3 separate regions of the Homo sapiens genome follow, and regions 2 and 3 are each linked to region 1. Evidence: fine-mapped expression QTL. A gene starts in region 1. Each other region holds a variant in brackets. All regions are shown on one strand. Distances are between the middles of the regions. Region 1 holds the start of CRK (CRK proto-oncogene, adaptor protein). Region 2 overlaps CRK (CRK proto-oncogene, adaptor protein). Region 3 overlaps CRK (CRK proto-oncogene, adaptor protein).

Region 1 (2,500 bases):
TGGGAAGCCCTCCTGGATTACTCCATAGACTGGCTGTGGGGGCTCTGCTCTGTGTTCATGTCCGTTTCCCATGATAGCGTTTGTCAGCATTTGTCATCCTTTTGTCATCCAGTTTCCTGGTTCCTCTCACTGGTCTGTGAGTTCGAGGAGTGCAGGGCCCAGCCATGATAACCTTTGCACCCGCAGTGCAAGTGGAGTGTCAACAACAATGTCCTAGGTGAATCAATGAAAATGAGAACGTCAGCTGGTCTGTGGAGAAGCTAGAGGAACGAGCAGAAACGGACCGACGTGGCCGGGCGCGATGTTTCTCGCCTGTAATCCCAGCACTTTGGGAGGCCGAGGCGGGCGGATCACCTGAGGTCAGGAGATTGAGACCATCCTGGCCGACATGGTGAAACCCCCGTCTCTACTAAAAATACAAAAAACAGCCGGGCGCGGTGGCTCACGCCTGTAGTCTCAGCTACTCGGGAGGCTGACGCAGGAGAATCGCTTGAACCCGGGAGCAGTGAGCCGAGATCGCGCCATTGCACTCCAGCGTGGGCGACAGAACAAGACTCCGTCTCAAAAAGAAAAAGAAAAAAGAAACAGACTGATATCGCAGGAAGCCTGGCCGAGAACTCAGGCCCCAGGGCCACACGCATCTTTTCTCCTCCAATTCTGTCTGGGAGTCGCTGCCTAGAAGTCCCAGGTCGTCCAGGAACCGGGGCCCAGACGAGAAGCACCGCTCTGTCCGCAGCGCAGGCGCGCGTCTCTGCGGGAGGCTGCGAGGCCCCGCCCCTCGGGCCCTAGACCCCGCCTCCCATCCCCCGCAGCCCGGGCCCGGGAAGGGCGGCACCGCCCATGAATCCGCATGCGCAGTGCGCGCGCGAGGGCGCCTTGCCCTTCTCCCAATGGCGGGCCGCGGGCCCCTTCCCGGCAGCCTCCCTCGGGCAGGGAGCGCGTCATTTCCGGAGGGGGAGGCCCGCGGCTGCCGCCGCCATTTCGGGCGCTGCTGTGAAGCTGAAACCGGAGCCGGTCCGCTGGGCGGCGGGCGCCGGGGGCCGGAGGGGCGCGCGCGGCGGCGGCACCCCAGCGTTTAGGCGCGGAGGCAGCCATGGCGGGCAACTTCGACTCGGAGGAGCGGAGTAGCTGGTACTGGGGGAGGTTGAGTCGGCAGGAGGCGGTGGCGCTGCTGCAGGGCCAGCGGCACGGGGTGTTCCTGGTGCGGGACTCGAGCACCAGCCCCGGGGACTATGTGCTCAGCGTCTCAGAGAACTCGCGCGTCTCCCACTACATCATCAACAGCAGCGGCCCGCGCCCGCCGGTGCCACCGTCGCCCGCCCAGCCTCCGCCCGGTGAGGGACTGACGGGACGGCGGGCCCTGGGCGGGGTGAGGGCCGCGGAACTCCCAGCCTGGCTGGCTGGTCCTCGAGAGCGGACCCTCGGGGGTCGTGGGCAGAGGGCTGGGTGACCGTGGCAGGGGCCCGCCGGCTGCTCGGGCTCGCTCTCACCCGGGGAGCAGGAGTGTGGGGGAGGAGGAGCCGCGGACCGAGGCCCCGGGGTGTGCCTGGGGAGGGCAGCCGCGGGGAAGGGGAACTGCTTCGGCCCCAGGGTGGGGCTGGCTCCCGGGCCAGGCGCAAGGGTAGGGCAGGGCAAGGCAACGTGGGGACAAAGAGCTGAGGGAGATGTTGGCACTGCGGGGGCATCACTTGGCAGCGGCGCCCAGAATGAATCCGATAATCCTACAAGTGGCTTTTAGGCTGGAAACGTTTCCTGCCGTGTTGGAGAGCCGGGTTTGGCCGTGCTCCCCTGGTGGCCTTTGGTAGGAAGTCACCACATACTGGCCGGGAGGGATGGAGACACCCTCAGGAAACCGGTCAATTTTTTCCTTTCTTGGGCATTTTTCCAAAATCTTTGTACCGTTCTCTTCCCCCGTGGAGGACGAAGGTGGTGAACTAAGTGCTAGAAGAAATAGTGGTAGCAGAAAGCCTTCAGTGACCAGCCCAACCCAGTTTAAGGCGATGCCTGGCTATGTGCAAGAGATCTAAGCGTCCAGAAGACTGTCCGCCGTTAGAGAGTTCTGGTTTTCAAAGTGTTTAGTGGAGGAAAGACATTTTATTCCACAAAATAAACCAGAAGTGAGGCAATGGAAACAGACCCTTCCCTGTAAGTGACTGGAACTTCATTTTCCTTGGACTTAAACATTGTCGGTGTGTACTTCAGGGCGTCACCTTGCTCAGTAAGATGGGGCTGCGGGCTGAGTCTTCCTGGATATTGGGAACAGACTCTACGCCAAGAACATAAATTACCTGCGCTGGGTTTTCCTTGCCAGGGAGGGATCCCTGAGATTGACTGTCTTACCGATGCCGTTGGAGTTGATTTGGGACTGTTTTAAGGGAATAGATAGATGCCCTTAGTACTGGAGATTTGTGAGGTACAAAGTAATTCTGGGGTTCTCATTGTATGTGTACCTGTGTAACAGCATCAGGAGTCCTCGTGCCTTCACGCTGTTGCCAAGTCG
Region 2 (2,849 bases), 24 kb after region 1:
TTGTTATATTTTAGTCAACTTTTCTAGGTGTTTTGTGGATTGTGGTTCTTTAGGATATAGTCTTAAGTCCACCATTCTACTTGATAGCAAACTCTGTTTAAATACCTCAATCTTATATTGTCTTTGTTCTTCTTTTCTTTTTTTTTTTTTTTTGAGACGGAGTCTCGCTTTGTTGCCCAGGCTGGAGTGCAGTGGCGTGATCTCGGCGCACTGCAAGCTCCGCCTCCTGGGCTCATGCCATTCTCCTGCCTCAGCCCCCCAAGTAGCTGGGACTACAGGCGCCCGCCACCACGCCTGGCTAATTTTTTATATTTTTAGTAGAGATGAGGTTTCACCGTGTTAGCCAGGATGGTCTCGACCTCCTGACCTCGTGATCCACCTGCCTTCGCCTCCCAAAGTGCTGGGATTACAGGCGTGAGCCACCGCGCCTGGCCTTTTTTTTTTTTTTTTTTTAAGACAAGGTCTCACTCTGTCACCCAGGCTGGAGTACAGTGGCGTGATCTCACTCTGCCTCCTGGGTTCAAGTGATTCTCGTGCCTCAACCTCCCGGGTAGCTGGGATTACAGGCATCCACCACCACGCCTGGCTAATTTTTTTATTTTTAGTAGAGATGGGATTTCGCCACATTGGCCAGGCTAGTCTCAAACTCCTGGCCTCAAGCGATCCGCCTGCCTCAGCCTCCCAAAGTGCTGGGATTATAGGCATGAGCCACCCCGCCTGGCCTATGTTGTCTTTATTCTTAAACATTCAGAGTGCAGTCTCAAATCCCATCCCACAGAGCTGTAAGAAGCTCCTAAGAATGTGTTACAGGATGAGGAGGCTGAGGACCAGCCTGGACAGTAAAACAGTTCCTCTGTGGTGAGACTCATCAGTCTCTTTGCTGTAGTGAGGTCTCCCTCTTGGAAAGAAAGGTTAACTACCTTGTAGTACTTCAAGTCCTGTATGAAGTCTTTGTTGTTCATTGGTAATTCATATTAGGATTTTTCTTTCCTATTTATAACTTGAATTTTGAAATCAGTAGTGTTAGAACTACTGTTATTACTACATTCACTGATTAGTACATTCCTTTGTATTGTCAGATTGTAACAGTTCTGGGGCAAGCACTCGGTTTCACCTTTGTATTTGAAGTAGTACACCCTAGTCTGGTCAACATGGTGAAACCCATCATTACAAGAATTAGCCAAGTGTGGTGCACATGCCTGTAGTCCCAGATACTCTAGTGACTGAGATGGGAGGATGGCTTCAGCCTGGGAGGTCAAGGCTGGAGTGAGCTATGATTGCGCTACTGCAGTCCAGGCTAGGCGACAGAGTGAGACTCTGCCTCAAAAAAAACTAGTACACCAAGTTTCTTTTTTTTTTCTTTTGTATTTTTAGTAGAGATGGGGTTTCACTGTGTTAGCCAGGATGGTCTCGATCTCCTGACCTCGTGACCCACTCCCCTCTGCCTCCCAAAGTGCTGAGATTACAGGCGTGAGCCACCGCCCCGGTATGATACCCCTCACCTTCCCTGATCTGATCTTTGGGAATTATGCTTTAGTGAATTAACAGGTGGAAGCACAGTTCTGACTTTGTTTCTGAATTGGAGGAAGAACTGCATTTACTGGAGCAAAATGTTCTTAGAATGCCCCACCCCCTCCG[G/C]CCTTCTTCCTCTGCCCTCCTCCAGCCAGAGTCAGCAGCCACTCCTTCCTCCAGACTGTTAAAGACCTAAGGCCACATGTGGCACCACAGGAAGACCTGGTCTCTAAATATCATCATAGTGCCTTTGGGACCTCAGGAGCATTTTCATGTGCTCTAAACGTTTCAGGAGAAAGGCCCCAAAAAGCACAAAGGGTTAATTTGTTTGTTTGTTTGTTTGTTTGTTTTGAGACGGAGTCTCACTCTGTCGCCCAGGCTGGAGTGCAGTGCGTGATCTCGGCTCACTGCGAGCTCCGCCTCCAGGGTTCACGCTATTCTCCTGCCTCAGCCTCCCTAGCAGCTGGGACTACAGGCGCCTGCTACCACGCCCGGTTAATTTTTTTGTATTTTTAGTAGAGACGGGGTTTCACCGTGTTAGCCAGGATGGTCTCGATCTGCTGACCTCGTGATCCACCCACCTCGGCCTCCCAAAGTGCTGGGATTACAGGCATGAGCCACAGCGCCCGGCCATAGGGTTAATTTTAACAAGGTCTTCCTTGAGGTATTTTTACTTCAAAGCCACGTTGGTCAGGTTAATTAGCCCAATTGATTGCTTACAAATTTTCTTTATCCGTTTAAAAATCAGAATCAGGCTGGGTGTGGTGGCTCACGCCTGTAATCCCAGCACTTTGGGAGGCCAAGGCGGGCGGATCACGAGGTCAGGAAATGGAGACCATCCTGGCTAATACTGTGAAATCCCATCTCTACTAAAAAAAAAAAAAATACAAAAAATTAGCCGGACGTGGTGGCGGGCATCTGTAGTCCCAGGTACTCGGGAGGCTGAGGCAGGAGAATGGCGTGAACCCGGGAGGCGGAGCTTGCAGTGAGCCAAGATCGCGCCACTGCACTCCAGCCTGGGCGACAGAGCGAGACTCTGTCTCAAAAAATAATACTAATAATCAGAATGAGCCCAGGTACAGTGGTTCACGCCTGTAATCCCAGCACTTTGGGAGGTCGAGGTGGGTGAACTCTTCACCTGAGGTCAGGAATTCGAGACCAGCCTGACTAACATTTTGAAACTCCATTTCTATGAAAAAGACAAAATTAGCCAGGCGTGGGGGCACACGCCTGTAATCCCAACTACGTGGGAGGCTGAGGCAGGAGAATCACTTGAACCCGGGAGGTGGAGGTTGCAGTGAGCTGAGATTGTGCCACTGCACTCCAGCCTGGGCAAC
Region 3 (2,797 bases), 34 kb after region 1:
ATTGCTTTCATTGTATGGAGCATGACCAGCGTGTGACTCATTCTGACATTTCAGATCCTAAGAATTCTAAGAACACTACTAGAAGCATTTGTTCCCTCCTAGTCAATGCTTCATACTTTTTCTTGGGATTCTTTTAGCCCTTGACATTCTTGTCCCCCAAACCTGTAAGTAGGTGAATTCCTAAGATAAGTGTGTATTTTCATTCCAGGTGAAAAGCAGGATGTACCGAGCACTTTATTCAGTGCATAGCTTTAAGCCAGTGTTGGATTCACTAAGTGGACAGCCAGTCTCCCAGCTCTCTGCCTTCCCCAAAAGGGTCGTAGTAGGTCACCCTTCTACAGCAGCTAACTAGAGTCCTAACTAATGGGATCCAGCAGGGCCATTTCTCCAGAGGGCCAGTATCCTATTAGGAGACTCTTGGAATTCTTAGGTTCTACTCAAGAGTGGAAGGACCAATCACCTCTGATATTCTGTGGAAGGTTTTGGGGTCAAATTCTGCCCTCTGCATTCTGTGCAACTTGTATAAAAGTCAAGTTAGTATTACATGAATTTGGGGTAGGGTTAGTGCTTTGAAAAAATGTTGAACCGGCTGGGCGCGGTGGCTCACGTCTGTAATCCCAGCACTTTGGGAGGCCGAGGCGGGTGGATCATGAGGTCAGGAGTTCGAGACCAGCCTGGCCAACATAGTGAAACCCCATCTCTGCTAAAGATATAAAAAATTAGCCCGGCGTGGTGGTGCACGCCTGTAATCCCAGCTACTCGGGAGGCTGAGGCAGGAGAATTGCTTCAACCTGGGAGGTGGAGGCTGCAGTGAGCCGAGATCGCACCACTGCGTTCCAGCCTGAGCGACAGGGCAAGACTCAGTCTCAAAAAAAAAAAAAAGGAAAAAAAAAAGAAAAAAAAATGTTGAACCAATTGTGAATTACTTATGTATTATTCATTTCTCATGGGGAGAGTAATGCTGTTGAAGAACATTACATTGTAAACTGCCTTCATTTTTGGCTCTTTGTTTATGTTCAGGTTTAGTTTACAAACCCATTTAAGTATGGAATGATTTATATGGGGTCAGGTGCTCCACAAAATAGACCTATGAGACCAAAAATGACCTAGGCTATTTAGACGACAGCATGAAACTTCCACGTTAGTTCTCAGTCTATAAAGGCACTTACCGGTCTCTGGTGTGGTATGACCAATAGAAACACCTTATAGTTTGCTTTGGACCTCATTTTGGAAAAATAATCTGCCTTTCTAATTGTTCTGCATAGGTTAAAATGATAAATTTACATTCTTTGAACCTATACCAGATTGTGGTGTCCGAGTGACCGGCACACTGTCTGACACACAGTCAGTGTGCACGTATTTGTCTGAGTGAATGAGGAGACCTGAGAAACCGGTGACGTGGCACAGGGAAGCCAGCTGGCCCAGGATTCCGTACATGGCCGCAAGCAGACTAACGCGTTGACGCT[A/G]ATTTAATGTATTTTACCTCACACTAAGGTCATGCTTGATAAAGACGTTAAACTCAACTTGTAAAATGGTAGCCCAGTGCTATGCACAGAGTGGGTGCTCATTAGTGTTGAATGAACACATTTGTAATACTACATGTAATTCCATCTGACTGCTTTGTTAAATTTTCAGTTAGAACGTAGATACTGTAAAGTCCACACACACATTAAATCTTGTTTTCCTGAAAGTATGGCATCAAAAATACTTGTAGAAAAACCTTGTCACAACTGATTTGAATGTTCCTATTTTCTTTTCCTTTGACTTTGATATTGGCTTGTAATGTCTCTTTTCATCATATGTAATATCAGTGGAACAGGCAGCGCTACTCAAGTCCTAAGGATTCCTCAGTGATCAGTGATCCAGGGCCGTTCATGAACCACTGGGCTGGATTTGACTGTTGAGTGTGGCAGTTAATGCCCCTCAAGAAATCAAAGGATGTCTTATAAGTGTCTTCCAAAAAAAAGCAAATGCTGAAATCCTATTGGCAAAGTAAACTGAAATTGGCTGCTATATTTTATATAATCATTTCTGCAAATCCCATTTTTTGAATACTAATATTTGACATGGTTAATTCTTATTAATTTGTTGGAATTGTTTATTGTTAATAATGCAAATAGATAATTTTTAATTATCCACAAGTAACATTTCACTGTTAATGGTTTGAAATAGGTGATAAGCAAACCAATTTGAAATAAAATATAAACATGTGCCATTGTATTATAACACTATACACTTTCTTGACAGTTAAATTTAAAAAAAAATTTTTTTTGGTAGCATGTATTGTATATGTTTATAGTATATGTAGTAAATAAAAATATGGCCAAATGTTTGGCTTGGTGATCTTTTGCAAAAAAGTAATCTTTGAATATTTTTCACAAAAGAACTAAATCTTTTTTTTTTTTTGAGACAGAGTTTCGCTCTTGTGACCTAAGCTGGGGTGCAGTGATGCGATCTCGGCTCACTGCAACTTCCGCCTCCCACGTTCAAGCAATTCTCCTACCTCTGCCTCCCGAGTAGCTGGGGTTACAGGCATGCACCACCACGCCCAGCTAATTTACTGTATTTTTAGTAGAAATGGGGTTTCACCATGTTAGCCAGGCTGGTCTCAAATTCCTGACCTCGGGTGATCCGCCTGCCTCCGCCTCCTAAAGTGCTGGGATTACAGGCTTCAGCCACCACCGCACCCAGCGAGAGGTAAATCTTTATGCTTAGGGGATAGGAGGTATGTGCCTTCAGCAGCCTGCAGTCATATAATTAGATAAACAATTATACAAGCTCAGTGGGTGCTTATTAA

Evidence for each region.
Region 2: its variant is fine-mapped to the expression of CRK in whole blood (TOPMed, PIP 0.93).
Region 3: its variant is fine-mapped to the expression of CRK in whole blood (TOPMed, PIP above 0.99).

What each region holds. Positions count from the first base shown.
Region 1 is chr17:1,454,711-1,457,210 of GRCh38, reverse strand. CRK (CRK proto-oncogene, adaptor protein) reads left to right here and starts at 979. Exons shown (of 3, transcript NM_016823.4): 1 at 979-1,334. The coding sequence starts at 1,094. RefSeq lists silencers at 671-1,170, 1,261-1,320, 1,431-1,560 and an enhancer at 825-1,810.
Region 2 is chr17:1,430,081-1,432,929 of GRCh38, reverse strand. The region is part of intron 2 of CRK (CRK proto-oncogene, adaptor protein); the gene reads left to right. Among named protein-coding and RNA genes, the nearest start is that of CRK-AS1, 6.9 kb to the right of the region's middle. RefSeq lists enhancers at 1-379, 380-880. The variant G/C (reference allele first, on the strand shown) is at 1,639.
Region 3 is chr17:1,420,253-1,423,049 of GRCh38, reverse strand. It overlaps CRK (CRK proto-oncogene, adaptor protein), which reads left to right. Exons shown (of 3, transcript NM_016823.4): 3 at 1-2,357. Among named protein-coding and RNA genes, the nearest start is that of CRK-AS1, 2.9 kb to the left of the region's middle. The variant A/G (reference allele first, on the strand shown) is at 1,467.